Regions from separate parts of the Homo sapiens genome. Here region 2 is linked to region 1. A link means that fine-mapping ties the variant in region 1 to the expression of a gene that starts in the linked region. Tissue or cell type: whole blood. Region 1 holds a variant in brackets; the other region holds the start of a gene. All regions are shown on one strand. Distances are between the middles of the regions.

Region 1 (8,175 bases):
CTGTTAATACATCCTAGAGGTCTTTAAAGTGGCTCTAACCTCCATTATGCCTCCTGCAAAATTGTTTTTAAGGTCACCTTCAGAGGCAGATAGATCCCCACTCAAAAATTGGCTAGGATGTTAAGACTGATGACACCACATACACACCAAGAGGACAAGAAAAGTTTCACTACTTATGTAATTGAGGGTTTTCAGGAGAGGGGAGCAGTCATCTCCAGCAATTCCAAAATGGCTTCTGGAAGCAAAGGAAGGAGAGTGGCCTAGGTTTTCACTGAGGTTAGAAGTGGGGGGCCAAGATGAGAATTCCCACATGGAGACAGGAAATTGCATGGTTTGAATTTCCTTCATGCAGCAAAGAAGGGAGCATGCAGGCTTTTTTGCCAACTTGCTCAGAGGTAAGTTACAATGGGAAAAGGAAAGGTCAGTTTCTAGGGAGAATAAAGACTGAGGCAGGTGCTTCTCCAAGCACTGCTGCTGCTCTGGGAAAGGGAGGATCTTAGTTACTTGAAAGTTAAACTTTAAAGTGGCCCGTGCTCTGCCTGGCCTTCAGTCAGGAAGGGGTTATATGCTAGAAGGAATATAAAGTACGGCCAAAAGACAAAACCACTGTGAAAAGAGATGACATTGGGCTTTCTCAGGTGCTTGGAACCCATGCCAGCACAGAAATTGCTTGACTTCGTATAAGCAGACCAGGAAGATACTGTGGACATAGACCAGACTGGGCAACAGAGCAAGACTGTGTCAAAAAAAAAAAAAATGACAATGGGAAAGTCACAACTGTGCTGTCACTCCCTGTGTAATAATTGAGCTTTCGTTGAATGATACTGAGGGCCTGTCCAGGCAGGAGTAAGAATGTTAGATTTCCAAATATACTGTTTGGGGTGCCATCACAAGCATCAAGGAGGCAGGAGATGGTATACCATACTGGACAGTTTAGGAGACATTTTGAGTATCAAAATGCATCAGCCCCCCATCCTTCACCTTTGGACTCATGCCAGAGCAACAGAGCCAGCAGGCTTGCTAACTGTTGACAGAAGGAGCACATCACAAACTGGAAGCGGTAGAGTGTAATGAAAGCAGCACGGGTCCCAGAATTAAGAAGTCTGGTTCTGCAATTTTGTAACCAGAGCAGTTCCCACCAATCTCTTGTCCTTGGTTTCTACCTTTAAACAAAGAGAGACTTCATGATCTCTGGGGCTAGGGAAAGTAAGGCTCCACTGCCCTGCAGGATGTCAGGATGACGCCACCCCCATGGCGCTCCCTCATCAAACTCCTAGGGAACAAAGTCCCTCCTCACTGAGCCCCACAGACGAGCCCCGGTCAGCCCAAGGGCCCAGCATGGTTGGAGGGTCCAGCTGCCCTCCCTGTCTGCACGTCCACACCCCCTTACCCTGGACAGCCCTGACGACCGTTGTCTGGTGTCCCAGAGCCATGGCCGCCAGGGCTCCCTGCGAAACAAGCTCAGGCCACAGGAGCCCCGTTCGGCCCCCGCGGGACCGCGCTCCCTCCCGCCGGCGACGGTCCACGCGCGGTCACCCCAAGGCCACTCTGGCCACGGCTGCAGACCTTGAGCGTGGGAAGGGGCAGCCAGCTCCTCGGGCCCATTCGTGATCCTCGGGCGTCCTCTGGCGGCCAGAGCGGGCGTGACCTCAGGAGAATCCCCGCCGAGGCCGAACTCGCCCCGATGGCCGTTTCGCTTTGTGGACGGTCGCATTTTCCCAGCGGGCACTGCGACCGACTGTGACTGTGGTTCCGGGTATGGTGGTTGCACGCCTGTGGTCCCAGCTAGTCGGGAGGCTGAGGCGGGAGAATCGCTTGAGCCCAGGAGGTCGGGGTTGCAGTGAGCTATGACAGCGCCACTACACTCCACCCTGGGCAACAGAGCGAGACCATTTCTCAAAAAGAATAAAATGACAACCGGAAATATACGACCGTGCTGTCGCGGCTGCAGGAAATGGCGGCGTGCCCAGGCGCACTCATGACGGCTGCGTGCTCGTCAAGGTGCACAGGCGCGCACGCGTAGCGTACACTGGTGAAAGTTGCGCATTTGGACAGGCGACACGTCCTGCGCCCGCTACCCAGACTCTGGGGAAGGCAAGGGGTGCCGCTCTGTTCTACTCCTTTTCCTTATCCATCTCTTCTGTCTTTCCAAAGAGATGGTGAAAGCTCCACACACAGGATAAACATGAGGAACTGAGGAACAGTTAAAAAGATGTCTATGCTAGAGCTTCAACCCAGGCCTCCGCCCCAGCCTGCTGTCCCCTGCCTGCCCTTCCACGTCTTATGCACTTCGTTCTGGGAGCCTCCATGCATGCCCTGGGGAGCAAGCCACACATTGCCCTCGCACGGCAGTGTTCCGTCAACTGGCACCATCCAGCATGTTCAGCTTGGTTTCTTTCCTCATCCTCATAAGCCACTGACTCTGGGTTGGAACCACCATCGCAGTTAGGTCATTCTCTACAATCGCTGGCCTACTATGCCCTGACCGTATCCCAGTGAGCACAATAGGGTCAGAATTCCAGGCCACTGTTGTCCCCCAACTTCCATTTTATCCCAAAGAGACCTTTCCCACTAGTTTCCCACAGCAGAGGCGAGACCGGCTGGAAAATGGAATGAAATTTATTGAAGAGAAACGTGTACCGAAATCACTGAAAAGAAGGGAACCACAACACAGAGAGAAACTGCAAACAGCCACTACAGGACACAGGTCCTAGGATCCCTCCTCCTGGGGTTCCTGGCAAGGCGCCTCGTCTACCCCCGTCCTGCTGCCGACCCCACTGCTACCTCCCTCCTTCCCGAGGGCCCCAGGGCCCGCCTCTTGCCAGGACGTGGACTCTGGCAGTGTCCACCGGCTTCAGGGAGCCCCCTCCCAAGCCCATCTGCTGGGGCAGGGCCCTGCCCTATAGTCATCACAGACAGTCACAGGACACCAGTAAACACAGCAGGGAACAGCCCACCAGGTCGAGGAAACAGTCACAAGTAACAACAGGGGTGGAATGCCAAAGCATAAAGCTCTCCTGGGAGCCTCAGGCAGGGCAGCCCCACTCCGTCCCGGGTCCGGCTCTTCCTCCCACAGTCATGGTTACCATCGTGGTCACAGGGTGAGCATTGGCCGCGCCCTGGTTCCTCCTTCCCGCCATCTCCTGGGTCTGTGCTGGGGGCCTCCGGGGAGGAGCAGCTCAGAGAAGAACACACACAGCTCCACGAGAACAAGCAGCCACTGGCCTAGATCTACACCAGGAAAGCAGAGGTGGTGTTTAAGATGCAGGACAGACAGCAGTGAGCAGAACCTGGGCTCACAGGAAGCTCACAGCACATGCCCCGGGCCTAGTGGCGGCCGCCCGGGTGGGTGCACAACACACAACTTTGCACAGGAACGACAGCTAGCAGTGGGTGGGCGTCTGCTGGGCGCGTGGGTCACTACGGGGCCTAAACAGGTGAGGGTGGGCTTCCCAGAACAGGGGGCAGCCTGCCCCGGGGACGGCAAATGGGGCAACCCTCTTGGGAGACCCAGGCAGCTGGCACCCTTGAGAGGACCTCTTTCCCCTGTCTCTCCCAACCCAGGACAAGGGGTGGGGGACAGACATCTTCAGGTGCCCCCACCCAGGTCGCAGCTGGCCACTCAGGGCTCCCTCCTGGCCAGCCCCCCAGAGACGGCAGGGTTTGGGGCTGGGGCTGGGTGCAGCACTGGGTGCAAAGCAGGGGTGCCTCCCCCAACCCCATTTGGTATCAACGTGGTCATCTGGGTCACCGGGAAGGGCTGATGGTGGTGGCCAGGGCCCTTTGGAGGGAGGTGGGGGGCCCCGATCCTGATGTGGGATGAGGGACCAGCCCTGGCCTGGCCTCCCCACTGCCTCCAGGATGCTGCGGCCTGAGAGGAGAGGAGGCCCTGGGGCCCTCTGAGCCTATTTGCCTGGGGAGGATTTGGGCTGACCAACCTTCCTGGCCCCATCCTCATTTTCCAACTCCTCCAGTATGAACATAAGACCCCCTTGGGTCGGGGGGCTCCTCAGCCTCCTGGCCTCCTGCCTGGACAAGACCCTCTGGCTCCTTCGAGGCCTGCAGGGGCATTTTCACCTTCCCTAATGGCAGGGGTGCTCCTGGCGGCCTCTTTGGTGGCAGGAGCAGTCTCAGCAGCATCTTCCACGCCAGGGTCAGCCTGGCTGG[C/T]GTCTTCCTGGGCTGAGGAGGCCTGAGCAGCATCTCCACAGGCAGGAGCTGCCTGGGCGGCAACTGGATCTTCACTTTCCACTGTGGCCACTGGCCAGGCCACAACATGCTGGCTCCTCACTGGGGAGGCCGCCCACGCCTCCATCTCCTGGATGAGCTGAAGCAGCCCCAGGAAGTAGGGCGGCCTCCTCTCCAGTGCATCCCCCTCAGGGTATTCTGGAGTGCTTCGCCAGGGCAGGCCTGAGGCTGCACCTACCGCAGTCACAGGTGGTTGGCCAGGGCCGGGCAGACGGCCCCCTTCTCCAGGGCCATCTGCAGCAGGCCTTCCAGGCATACCAGGAAGGCAAAGGGCCCCTGCGTTCAGGTCAGGAACTTCAGCCTGGAAGTCATTCGAGGGTCCCGGTTTCCAAACGCCTGCCCCAGCACCGCTGCCCAGCAGTCCAGCAGCGCCTGGCAGTCCAGTGCCGCCAAGTTGGGATCTTCCTCTAGGAGGCCGCTCACAACGTCCAGGGCTGGGCCACCCAAGCTCTCCAGCAGCCATCTCTTCCTCTCCCTTTCCGACGCATGGTACCACAGCTGCAGCATATCCTTGGCGTGCTCCATCCAGCTCTCAAAGGACTCTTCCTCGCAGCCTGGCTGCTCCCTCCCTGAAAAGGGTCTCAGTTCCTGGTAGGCCCTGTTTTCCAGCACAGCCTGCAGGGTGCAGCGCCGAGGCTGGACCCAGGCTCTTGTTACATTTGTCCCTCTTGCCTCACCCACAGCTCCTGCCTCACCCGCAGCTCCTGCCTCACCCACAGCTCCTGCCTCACCCACAGCTCCTGCCTCACCTGCAGGTCCTGTATCACCTGCGGCTCCCTCATCTGACTCTCTTGCCTCTTCTGCAACTCTCAACTCATCTCCAGCTCCTCCCTCACCTGCACCTTCTGCCTCACTTGCAGATCCTCCCTCACCTGTGGCTTCTGCCTCACCCTTACCCACAGCTCCTGTTTCACCTATGGCTCCTGCTGCACCTGCAGCTCCTCCATCACCTGCCTCTTCTTCCTCACCTGCAGCTCCTGCCTCACCTGCAGATCTTTCCTCATTCACACCTCCTGCCTCACCTACAGATCCTGCCTCACCTGCAGCTCCTGCCTCACCTGCACCTCTGGCCACTGCTTGCCCCTGGGGCTATGCAGGGAAACTGGGTATATCCTGAAACTCAGCATCAAGGGCCTGGGGCAGGGAGATCACTTTCCAGGGTCCCCCTTTGCCTGCTATTTGGCGGGGAATCAAGCTTTGGTTTAAACCCTCAGCGAATTCCACCAAGGCTGCCCTGGCCCCGAGCTCCTTTCTGAAGACCTTGATGAGCACTCGGTACCTGCCCAGGGGCGACAGGGCAGCCCGCACGGCCTCCTGGAACTCATGTTCCTCGCAGTCGTCAGGGATATCCAGGATGAGCAGAGAGCGCTCTGCGTTCACACCCATCCTCCTGCACCAGTCCCGAAGCATCGCCAGAGCCATCGCAGAGGACTTGAGGGAGGGAGCCTGATCAGACAGGAATGTGTGCTGACTGTTGCAGTCTCTGACGCAGCCTGTGAGTGCAAAGGGGAGAGAGGGACGTTGCTGCCAGTCAGCCCACCCCCACCGCACAGCCAGAGACCAGCCACTCCCAAATGCAGGGCCTGAAGCATCTCCCCTGCCCAGTGTCACAGCCCATGCTCCCCCACCCCTACTGCTGCAGCTCAGAGTCCTTCACTGCACCCCCCACCTCCACAGCAGGAAGCGCCTCTTTCACCTGGTGAACAGCCCCTGATCACAAAACTTACAGCTGGAGCCCCTCCAACCATCATGTGCAACCCTGCAGCTGGATGTGCCCACCTCCTCTTTTTCCCAGCACTTGACCAGGAGCCCTCTCCCTAATGCCATCCTCCCTGCAACCTGGCAACCCCCTCCCACGCCTCCCACATCAGCAGCCAGGAGTCCCCTTCCCCCACAGCCAGAGCCCCTCTCTCTCCCATCGTCCCCTTCTGTAGCCAGAGGTGCCCTGCAGCCAGGAGCTCACCCCACCCAGACTCCTGCAGCAAGGAGACCCTCCTCCCCTCTCCTCAGGCTCCAGACCAGGACCCGCTGTCGCACCTACTGCCTGGGGGGACAGCGATCTGGCTCCTGCCCAGTGTGCCCTCAGCCACTCTGGGGTCCCGCTGGTGCCTGCTCACTGTCTGCAGACACTGCAACCACCCACGGGGAAATGCCACCTTCAGGCTGTGGAGCCCACTCTGGAGGCCGCCTTGAGGCCCTGGAATGGGAAGGTGGAAGATCGCGCCCCAGCAGCCCATCTGGGACTGCACAGGGCAGGGATATCTCAGGCCAGCTGTACTAAGGGCACGTGGGCTTCCAACTTCTCCCAGAAGCCTCAGATAGATGAGGGAGAAAAATCTCAGAGTCTCTGTGGGAGGCAAATAGCTAAACAGGGGGAGGCATCCGTGTTGCCCTGGGATCGGGACCTGCGCGGTAAGGGCTTGATGTGCCTCCGGGGGCAACAGGCCCAACCATCAAAATGGCCTAGTGGAAGTGTTGAGAGAGAAAGGGGATTGGAAACTGGCAGAGAGGAAGCTTATGCTTAGGGGCAGCGTCTGGAAGCTGGGAGTTGGTGGACAGCCAGGTACTAGGACTCCAGACTAGGTCCCCCAAATCACTACATTCACAGGCCTACCTCCTCATTGCAGGAATCTCCACAACAGGAAGAGGCTAGCTGTTCCTGACTCAAGAGCCTCATCATAGTTCTTAGGCTACAAAGCCAGCCTTCACCACCTAGGAAGCCATTGCATTGGAAAGAGTGTGTACGGCCTTTGGAAGCAGGCAAAGCTGGCTTCACCTAGCAGCTGGGTGGCTTTGCACAAACCACTGAACATCTCTGTTTCTCATCTGTAAATGAGCAATAAGAACATTTTTCTTGCAGGGGAGTCATGGAGCTTTACCTTCTATTAGACACACGGTAAGCCTTCAGTAAATAACCACAAGGGCACAGGAATGAAAAAGGGTGGTGTGGCCAAGAATGGTGTGGGTATTGGAGGCTGGTTGTGGCAGCCAGCTCAGTGGTCCCAGGTCTGAGCTCTGAGAAAAAGCAGGATGTGAGTGGGAACATTGGAACCATTTTCCTGAGGAATGCAAGGATTGGCCAATGTGAAAATATGACTTTCTGTTTCTGCAGGCCTTGGTCAAGAGAGGCATTTGGGAAACTCAGCCAGTCTCTGCCATGTCTAGGACTGGCTACCCATCTGGCCAGCAGCTTTGGGAGTTTCCTGAGAGTGAACCCTTGATGCATCCTTGAGCACTGCTGCACAGGCACCACTGCCCTCACGTCACTTCCCCAGCCACCAATAGGAACAACAGGAAGAGTAAGAGAGTAAGGGTACGAGGGGCAGAAGCAGACCACATGTGACAAAGTGTAGGTGAGGGACTTGCCTGTGAACTCTTGTAGTAGATTTATATATATATACACACATATATACATATACATATACACACATATACACATATATATACACATATATATACACACATATATATACATATACATATACACACATATACACATATATATACACATATATATACACACATATATATACATATACATATACACACATATACACATATATATACACATATATATACACACACATATATATACGTATATAAAAATATATATATAAATCTCTCTCTATATATATATAGAGAGAGAGAGAGAGAGTAGAGAGAGAGAGGGAGAGAGGGAGGGAGAGAGAGAGAGAGAGATGGAGTCTTGCTCTGTCACCCAGGCTGGAGTGCAGTGGCGTGATTTCGGCTCACTGCAAGCTCCGCCTCCTGGGTTCAAGCGATTCTCCTGCCTCAGCCTCCCGAGTAGCTGGGACTACAGGTGCGTGCCACCACGCCTAGCTAATTTTTTGCATTTTTAGTAGAGACAGGTTTTCACCGTGTTAGTCAGGATGGTCTCGATCTCCTGACCTCGTGATTGGCCTGCCTTGA
Region 2 (8,175 bases), 27 kb before region 1:
TCACCCACACATTCACTGTCATACACACATTCACACACCGTCTCACTCTCACATATTCACATACTTTTACTAACACACATATACATTAAACACATAAACATACATTTGACCACTAACACACATTCACTCACACACAAAAACTGATGCATACTCACACTCAAATACAAACACACATTAACATATTCACACACCATCTCACACACTCACATATTCACACATTCGCTGACACATGACACACACAAACTCTCCTACACTCACTCTCACACAATCACTAGTACGCATACTCACACATATTCACCATCTCACACACACTCACAGAGATGGGCCTGGTTTTGATGCTCCAGGTGTGGAAGCCCAATAGTGATACAAGGGATCCTGGGGCCACTGGTCCAGCCTGCTGTCCCTCACCCTTCCTTAAATATGTTATTCATTTCTGAGAAGCTCAACCAGTGCCCTGAGGACCCAACCAGCCACTGCCTGGGCCTACCAGTGTCCTGTCTACTGGGACTATCCAGCCTGCTCAGCTGGGTTTCTTTGCCTGGGTCCGTGGGCCGTGAACCCTAGCTCATGACCAACATGCGCAGATAGGGCATTCTAGAATGCCTTGCAGACCGAGCCCCAAGTATACACCAGTGTTAACAAAGCCACTGTGGCCCTCACTCCACCCCAACCCCATGCCCAGCCAACCTCATCCCCAGTTTCCCACAGCAGAGGCGAGGCCGGCTGGAACACTGAATGAAGTTTATTGAAGAGAAACACGTACTGAAAACGTTGAAGAGAAGGGAATCACAACACAGAGAGAAACTGCAAACGGCCACCACAGGACACAGGTCCCACACAGGTCCCGGGCCCCCTCCTCCTGAGGTTCCTGGCAAGACGCCTCATCTGCTCCTACTCCTGCTGCAGCCCCCGCTGCCAACTCCCTCCTTCCTGAGGGCCCCGGGGTCTGCCTCTTGCCAGGAAGGTAGACTCTGGCAGTGTCCACTGGCTTTAGGGAGTCCCCTCCCAAGCCCATCTGCTGGGGCAGGGCCCTGCCCTATGGCCCGCACAGGACAGTCACAGGACACTGGAAAACACAGCAGGGAACACCCTACCAGGTTAAGGAAACTGAGTCATGAGTAACAACAGGGGTGGAACACCAAAGCACAAAGCTCCTCGGGAGCCTCAGGCAGGGCAGCCCCGCTCCGTCCTGGGTCCAGTTCTTCCTCCCACAGTCACGGTCACCATCGTGGTCACAGGGTGAGCGTCCGCCTTGCCCTGGTGCTTCCTTCCTGTCATCTCCTGGGACTGTGCTGGGGGACTCCGGGGAGGAGCTGCTCAGAGAAGAACACACACAGCTCCACAAGAACAAGCAGCCACTGGCCTAGATCTACACAGGGAAAGCAGAGGTGGTGCTCATGACGCGGGACAGCAGTGAGCAGAGCCTGGGCTCACAGGAAGCTCACAGCATGTGCCTTGGGCCCAGAGGCGGCCACCTGGGTGGGTGCATAGCACACTACTTTGCACAGGAACAACGGCTAGCGGTGGGTGGGCGTCTGCTGGACGCGTGGGTCACTACAGGGGCCTACACAGGTGAGGATGAGCTTCCTGGAACAGGGGGCAGCCTGTCCCGGGAACAGTGAGTTGGGGGACCCCTCTTGGGAGACCCAGGCATCTGGCACCCTTGAGAGGGCCTCTTTCCCCCTGTCATCTCCCAGCTCAGGGCTGGGGGAGTTTGGGACAGACGTCTTCAGGTGCCTCCACCCAGGCCATGGCTGGCTGCTTAGGGGATGCCTCCAGGCTGGATTCCCCAAGGTGGCAGGGTTGTGGCTGGCCTTGGAATTGGCATTGGCATCTGTTGAGTTGCTTTGGCCATGGCAGCCCCAGGTTCTCCTTGCTTGATCTCTCCAGGAGTCTGGTGGCCCTGTACAGAAACAAGCAGAAGAAACAAAACCCTACCAAGTCCTCCCTTTTCCTCCTCCTTTGCAACAAAGACTTCCCTTCACAGCCACCCTGGTCCAAGTCAACTGTGAGGGCACTGGCCTGCCGGGTACCCAGTACCCCTGCTGGGGGTCTTCTCATCAATCTTTGGTCTCCTTGCCTGCACAACCTCTGGCTGGCACTGGGCTCCCGGGGCCTTAGGGTCTCCTGTCCTCACTGGCACAGGGCCTCCAGGGTGCTGCCTTCCTGGGGCTCCCCTAGTGCAGTGTAGATGATCCTGAAGACGGGATGGACCCTGTGGCCTCCCCTGCAGGGCTTTACCTCTGCCCCCCAGCTCTTCCTCACCAGCCCTGGCACCTGCTGGCAGGGGCAGGCCCCAGGTAGGCTCCTCCAGGTCCCATGTGGCCTGGGGGCCAGTGGGCATGTTCAGCTCAAAGTCCACAGGGTGGGTATTTAGGGGTGGTTGGATGAGCAGGACAGAACCCCCAGCCGTACCTTCTTCAGCTTCTGCTTCTTTGGGGTCCCCATCTGAGGCCCAGGCACCCCATGTGCTGGATGCAGTGGCTCCCTGCTTTCCTCTCCAGCACCTCTTCGGGGACCTGGACCTGACCCCCACTGAGCCTGTTGCCAGGTGGTCTTGGTTGCTGAAGTCCCTTCCAGCTGGCCAAGGGTGAGAAGGCTTGGCCTTGGTCTGGCTGCCCTGTCCCTCTGCCCCACTCAACTCATCTGCTGTTTGTCTGGGCTTCTCTTTCCCCTCCTTCCAATATCTCTTTTGTCTCCTTGGCCTGTGGTAGGAAATGTTGCCCTGTTCTCCCGAGCCTACTTGGCCTTGGACTTGGGATGGCTCTTGTCCCAAGCCCAGTTCCCGTTTCCCGACTCAACTGCAGCCTGTTTCTTCTGCTTTACCAAGAGCAGGTTGGAGGGGTTGATGCACTGTACCCTGATGTGGCCGTCTTCCCCACAGCTATAGCAGAATGTGTGGCGTTTCCGTTTTCTTGAGCCTCGAGAGCCAGCCCTTGCCACACCACCCCTTCGGTGTTGGCCTCTGCCCCTCCGGCGCCGGTAGCCCTGGGAAGGCCTCGCATCAAAACTGTTGCCAGAGGCAGGGAGAGGTACTGCCCCAACCCCAGTGATCCTGGCAGGTGGCCTTGGGGCTACTTCCAGCCCCTCCAGACTCTCCCTATCTGGACCTAAAGTGGCCTCCCATTCCTCCTCCTCACGCAGGAGCTTCACCAGGGCCAGGAAACCAGGAGGCTTCCTTCGCTGTTTCATCAGCTTAAGCTTATCTCGGAGTTTGTCAGGAAGGGTGGCCCCACTTAAGACTCGTTTCAGGCGAGTCTGATTCACGTTTCTACGTGATACCACATTGTTTTCTACAGCTCTTTGGAGCAGGGGTTCCAAACGTAACACAAAGCTAGATACTTTCTCTCCTGCCTCCTGATAGGCTTTACACAACTTCACCTGGGCAATTTTATGGCTCTCCACAGGTCCGAACACCTGCTGCAAGGCAGCCAGGCACTCCTCCACAGTTATGGAAGCATTGCTGGCCCGGAGCCCACTGACCACCTGGAGAGCAGGGCCCCGTAAGCATTCCATCAGCCTCCGCCTCTTTTCCCCCTCGGGCACCTGCCACATCTGTAGCATCTCAGTGGTGTGCTCAAGCCAGGCATCAAAGGCCAGTGCACCTGGGATGGATATGGTGTTCCCAGAAAACACTCTTAGTTCTCGGTACAACATTTGTTCTAGCAGAGGCTGCACTGCTGCCCCCAGAGTCTGGGCCCAGGTCCAGAACTCTGGTGATATAGTCACTCTTGGAGCCGAACAATTGGTGTCCGACCCGAGGACTCGGTTCATATCTGACACGGTCCGCCTCTCCTCCTCTAAGAAGCGGTTCAGTCTGTTGAGAAATTCCCCATCTGAGTTACGGGGTTTTACAATCACTTCCCAGGGCCCCCCCTTTCCTGGTATTTCCCTTGGGAGCAAAGCATAGTCGATATCTTGTGCCAGCTCCAGTAGAATCGCCTGGGCGTTCTCCTCCCTCCTAAACATCCTGCCAATCACCCTGTATCTGCCCAGGTGCCTGCAAGCCTCCTGGAGTGTCTCCTCAAACTCATCCTCGCCACAGTCCTCGGGGATCCCCAGGATGAGCATGCACCTCCGGGTGTTCAGGTGTTCCCCCCGACACCAGTCCTGTAACAAGGTCAACGGCATGTCCTCGAATCTCTGCGGATACTAATTTGGGGGGAGTGATCAGGGCGTGAGGCACATATCTGGATCAACTCCTAGGGTGATCGCAGAAGGCCCAGGTCTCCACAGCCTGTGAATGCGAGCAGGGCGAGAGCGAGGTTAATGCCCACCTCTCCGCACGCCCACATCCACGCCCACCCCCACCCCCACCCCCAGCCGCCCTCCTCCCCGGGCGGCGCCTCTGCAGCCAGGCCCCGCCCCTGCCCAGCCCCCCACCCCCACCCCCCGTGGGGTCTCTGCGGGCCTCAGCCCCCTCCCCGCGCTGCCCCAGGACCCTGGACCCCTGCCCTGCAGGCTGCTTCAGTTCTGATAGGGCGGACAGGCGAGGGGCGGCGGAGTCTCCCGGGGCCCAGCGTCTCCCTCCCCAGGTGGGTCTGTTACCTTCTCCCAGGGCAAGGTCCCTTCTGGTCGGGGTCCCCAGAGGGCTCTCCGGGGGCTATGCGCGGCGGCGGCGGCGGCGGCGGACGGGGGTCGGGCACCCCTGGCTCCCAGCGCGGACGTTCGCTCAGACTGTGGCTCTCCCTCGCTCGCGCAGCACGTGGGCCAGTGCGCCGGCGCCTGCTCGCCGCGGCTCTCTGCAGTGCGGACACGGGGCGGGGGCGCGGCGGCGGTGCAGCGCGGACCCCTCCGCGTCGTCCGGGAGACCGCAGGGCCATTGGCGCGGACGGGTCACGAGGTCGGGCTCTCGCCGCCGCCCCTGGGGGCCCCAGGTCCCCGGGTGACGTCACCTGCTCCTCTCCCCTAGCCCCCCCGCCACGGGGGCCCCCGGGCCCCCGGGCACACAAGCGCCCGCCCACCCCCATCCCCACTGCGGTGGCCAAAGGTCTGTGGCGGCCAGTCCCCGTGCCTTTGGCTCTCACCACAGCGGTTCCTGGTCCCGGCTCCTGCCCCTCCCGCACGTGCCACGGAGGTGCCAGCGGGGCGAGGGGTCTGCACCCCGGCGTGCCCACCAGAGGGCCAGGGAGTGGTCTGAGGTGCGCCAGGCAGCTCTGCATTATGGCCAGGGTCAGGGAGCCGGGTTCTGGGGCCTGTTCACCTGCTCTTGTCCTCCCCCTCCCCGTCCAGGACTGGTCCTCTGGCTGGCGAGGCCAGGGGCACCTGGTGCGGGTGCCATTCCGTGCAGGAGATGCCCCAGGCACTCATGCAGGTCACGCACACCACCCCAAGGAGGGTCAGCCATCTCCCCGCTGTCCATCCCGCTGCTGGGACCTGAGGCCCTCCGGCCAAAGCGCTTCGCTGCCCAGGTGCCAGTGGACAGGTTTACCGGGACCTTTCCGGTTTTGTGCGCTGCAAATCTAGTGACTTGGGAAACCACTTCCAGGACTTGGAGCCCAATCCCTTGGGCCTGCCCTTCCTTGGCAGCCGTGCGCCGTGGGTTCTATTGTATCCGTTTGATCCCAGGGCAGCAGCCAAATGAAGAAGGGAGTGACTGTCCCTCAGGCAGTGGGCCCAGGTGTTCTGTGGGTCCTGCCTGCTCTGCCAGCCGCATGCTCAACTCCTATTCACACAGCTTCAGCTCCTCTCCAAACACAACGAAAAGGGGCTTGTGGTTGATTTTCAGGCCAGGTTCACCCATCCAGCCAAGTCTGGGAGGCCACCTTGCAGTGAGTGGGGCACAAAACTGTCCACTGACTTCCTGCCCCACCCTGAGTTCTGCTCGTCAGCCTGGCACTTGTCAGGGACCAAGAAGAAATGGCCCCAAGGGCTTTTTCCTGGTCAGACAGAATTCCTGAAACATCTTTACAGGAGTTATTTCATTTGCTCCTCACCAGAACTCTGAAGCAGGTATTAACATTATCCTGATTTGACTCATGAGGCTCAGAGAGATTAAGAGACATTTTCAAGGTCACACACCGTATTGAAGGTAGAATTGAGACTGGATTCTAAATTAGTGCCCATCAGTCTTTGGGTAGAATTGGGACTATTTCTCCCCTGGTTGCTTCATGCCTATTAGAATTTATTTCTCTCATTTTTGTCCATTCACAGTCCCTTGCTTTGTCACTCCAAGGGCTCAACCAGCTTCAAACTGAACCTTCATCTGCCCAACTTGCAGGGGTGGAAACAGAGGTTCAGAGAAGGGACACTACTGGCCCAAGGTCACACAGTGAGTAAATGACAAAGCTTGAGATGTCAAGGGGAGATGCCAAGTATTCATGCCAAGGCAGAGGGGCGTGTCTGGAATGTCTCCGGAAAGAAGCCTGTGAAGTTCCCAGACAGACGCAGTGATCTGTGGATGTTCTGGGCATTGGGAAAAAAGGATTTGGAAACACTGGTATCAAGACAATAGATGTGAATATGTCCAATTTGAAAAGTTTTAGAACTCCTTTATATTGGAGTTAACCTTTGCCCTTGAAACCAGTGGAAATGTCTTAATTACTTTTGCTTCCCCATCTCCTTGCATGGTAGATAACACAGCAGCACCAAAGTTGGGGAACTGATGGATAAACATTATTACTTGTAAAGTGAAAAACATAATACAGCATGAAGGAAGCAACCTCCACCGGGGTGGCCTTGCCCTGGCTTAGACCAGTAGTGACTATCGGGGTCACAAAAGGGGCAGATTCATGGGCCCCACCTCTGCAATCTGATCTGCTGAGTCTGAAACAGGCCTGGGAATTTTTTAAAGAGTTTCTGGTAATTAAATACTTTATAAAATACATTCTGCAATATTTAACATACAAAACGTACTTAAAAAGTACATCCAGTACTCCTGAATGTAGTAACTGGATGAAGACATAAAACACTGCCAGTGAGGGTAAGCGCCTGCAGATTCCTTCCCTGTTGTCTCCCACTCTTGTCCTCCATGTGCATTTCTTCGTGCTTTTTCTGCAAATGACTATATCCCTAAAAAATTGTCTTTGTCTCTTTTACACTTGGCAGAAATGATATCATACTATTCATAGTCATCACTGTATTAACTAATTATTGTTTGTGAGAATCACCATTTTGATATAAGCAAATTTTATTCCTCAATTTTCACTTCTGTATAGTATTCCATTGTGTGTGTGTGTGTACCAAAATTTATCAATTTTCCCATTGACAGATATTTAAGTTGTTTCCCATTTTTACTATCAGAAACAATGCTGCTTTAAATATTCTTGGAGAGTTCCTCTAAGTTATGTACCTAGCCATGGCATTGCTGAATCAAAGACTATCTTTAGTATTCAGAGACATTGCCAAATTGTCTTCTGGGTTGCTGTACAAATTTATGTTTCCATCAAGCTCCATATCATCACTAACATTTCATATTGTGTGACTTAAATGTTGTTAATCCTGAGGAATGTCAATTGTTATTATGCTTTTATGTAGAATTTCTATGATTATGAATTAGATTTAATACCTTGGTTGGGGGGGCATTTTTTATTCCTCTTGATTGAAATTCCTATTTTTGTCTCAATTCTCAACTGGGGTGCTTCTCTTTTTTAATTCTTTCATAGGAGTTATTTATTTACTTTGGATATTTCTTCCCATTAAGTTACTATTCCTGCACAACCAGCTACCCAAAACATACTGGCTTAAAACAACCATTTTATTCTGCTCACAATTTTGTAAGTGAGAAATTGAGAGAAGGTTTAGCTGGGCAGTTCACTCATGGGATCTCTCATGTGGTTGCATTGAGATATGAGTTGAGAATCAAGTCTAAAGACTCAACAGGGCTGGGCACCCAAGATGGTTCATTCATATGGCTGGCATTGAGTCACACTTTTGGTACTTGCAGCCCAAAGCACGCTAATTTTTATAGAAGCTCAGATAACAATAGCTCCTCTGAATCATCATTATTGGACCAATTAAGTTTTTTATTTGGACTTTAAGAAATTTCTCTGGGAAAATACACAAATGGACAGAAATTACACCTCTTAATTTAAGACTGTTATGGGTTGAATTATGTCTCCCCATACCTCAATTCATATGGTGAAGTCCTAATCCTTAGCACCTCAGAATGTGACCTTATTTGAAAATAGGGTCATTGTAGATGTACTTAGTTAACATGAAATCAAGCTGGAGTGG

What was found. PIP is the estimated chance that this variant, and not a neighbour inherited with it, causes the effect.
Region 2: PNMA3 starts here. The variant in region 1 is fine-mapped to the expression of PNMA3 in whole blood (TOPMed, PIP above 0.99).

Annotation. Positions count from the first base shown.
Region 1 is chrX:153,026,277-153,034,451 of GRCh38, reverse strand. It overlaps the pseudogene LOC112268308. Among named protein-coding and RNA genes, the nearest start is that of PNMA3, 26 kb to the left of the region's middle. The variant C/T (reference allele first, on the strand shown) is at 4,168.
Region 2 is chrX:153,053,012-153,061,186 of GRCh38, reverse strand. It overlaps PNMA3 (PNMA family member 3), which reads right to left and starts at 4,717. Exons shown (of 2, transcript NM_013364.6): 1 at 4,549-4,717; 2 at 725-4,237. The coding sequence starts at 4,131. The coding sequence ends at 2,740.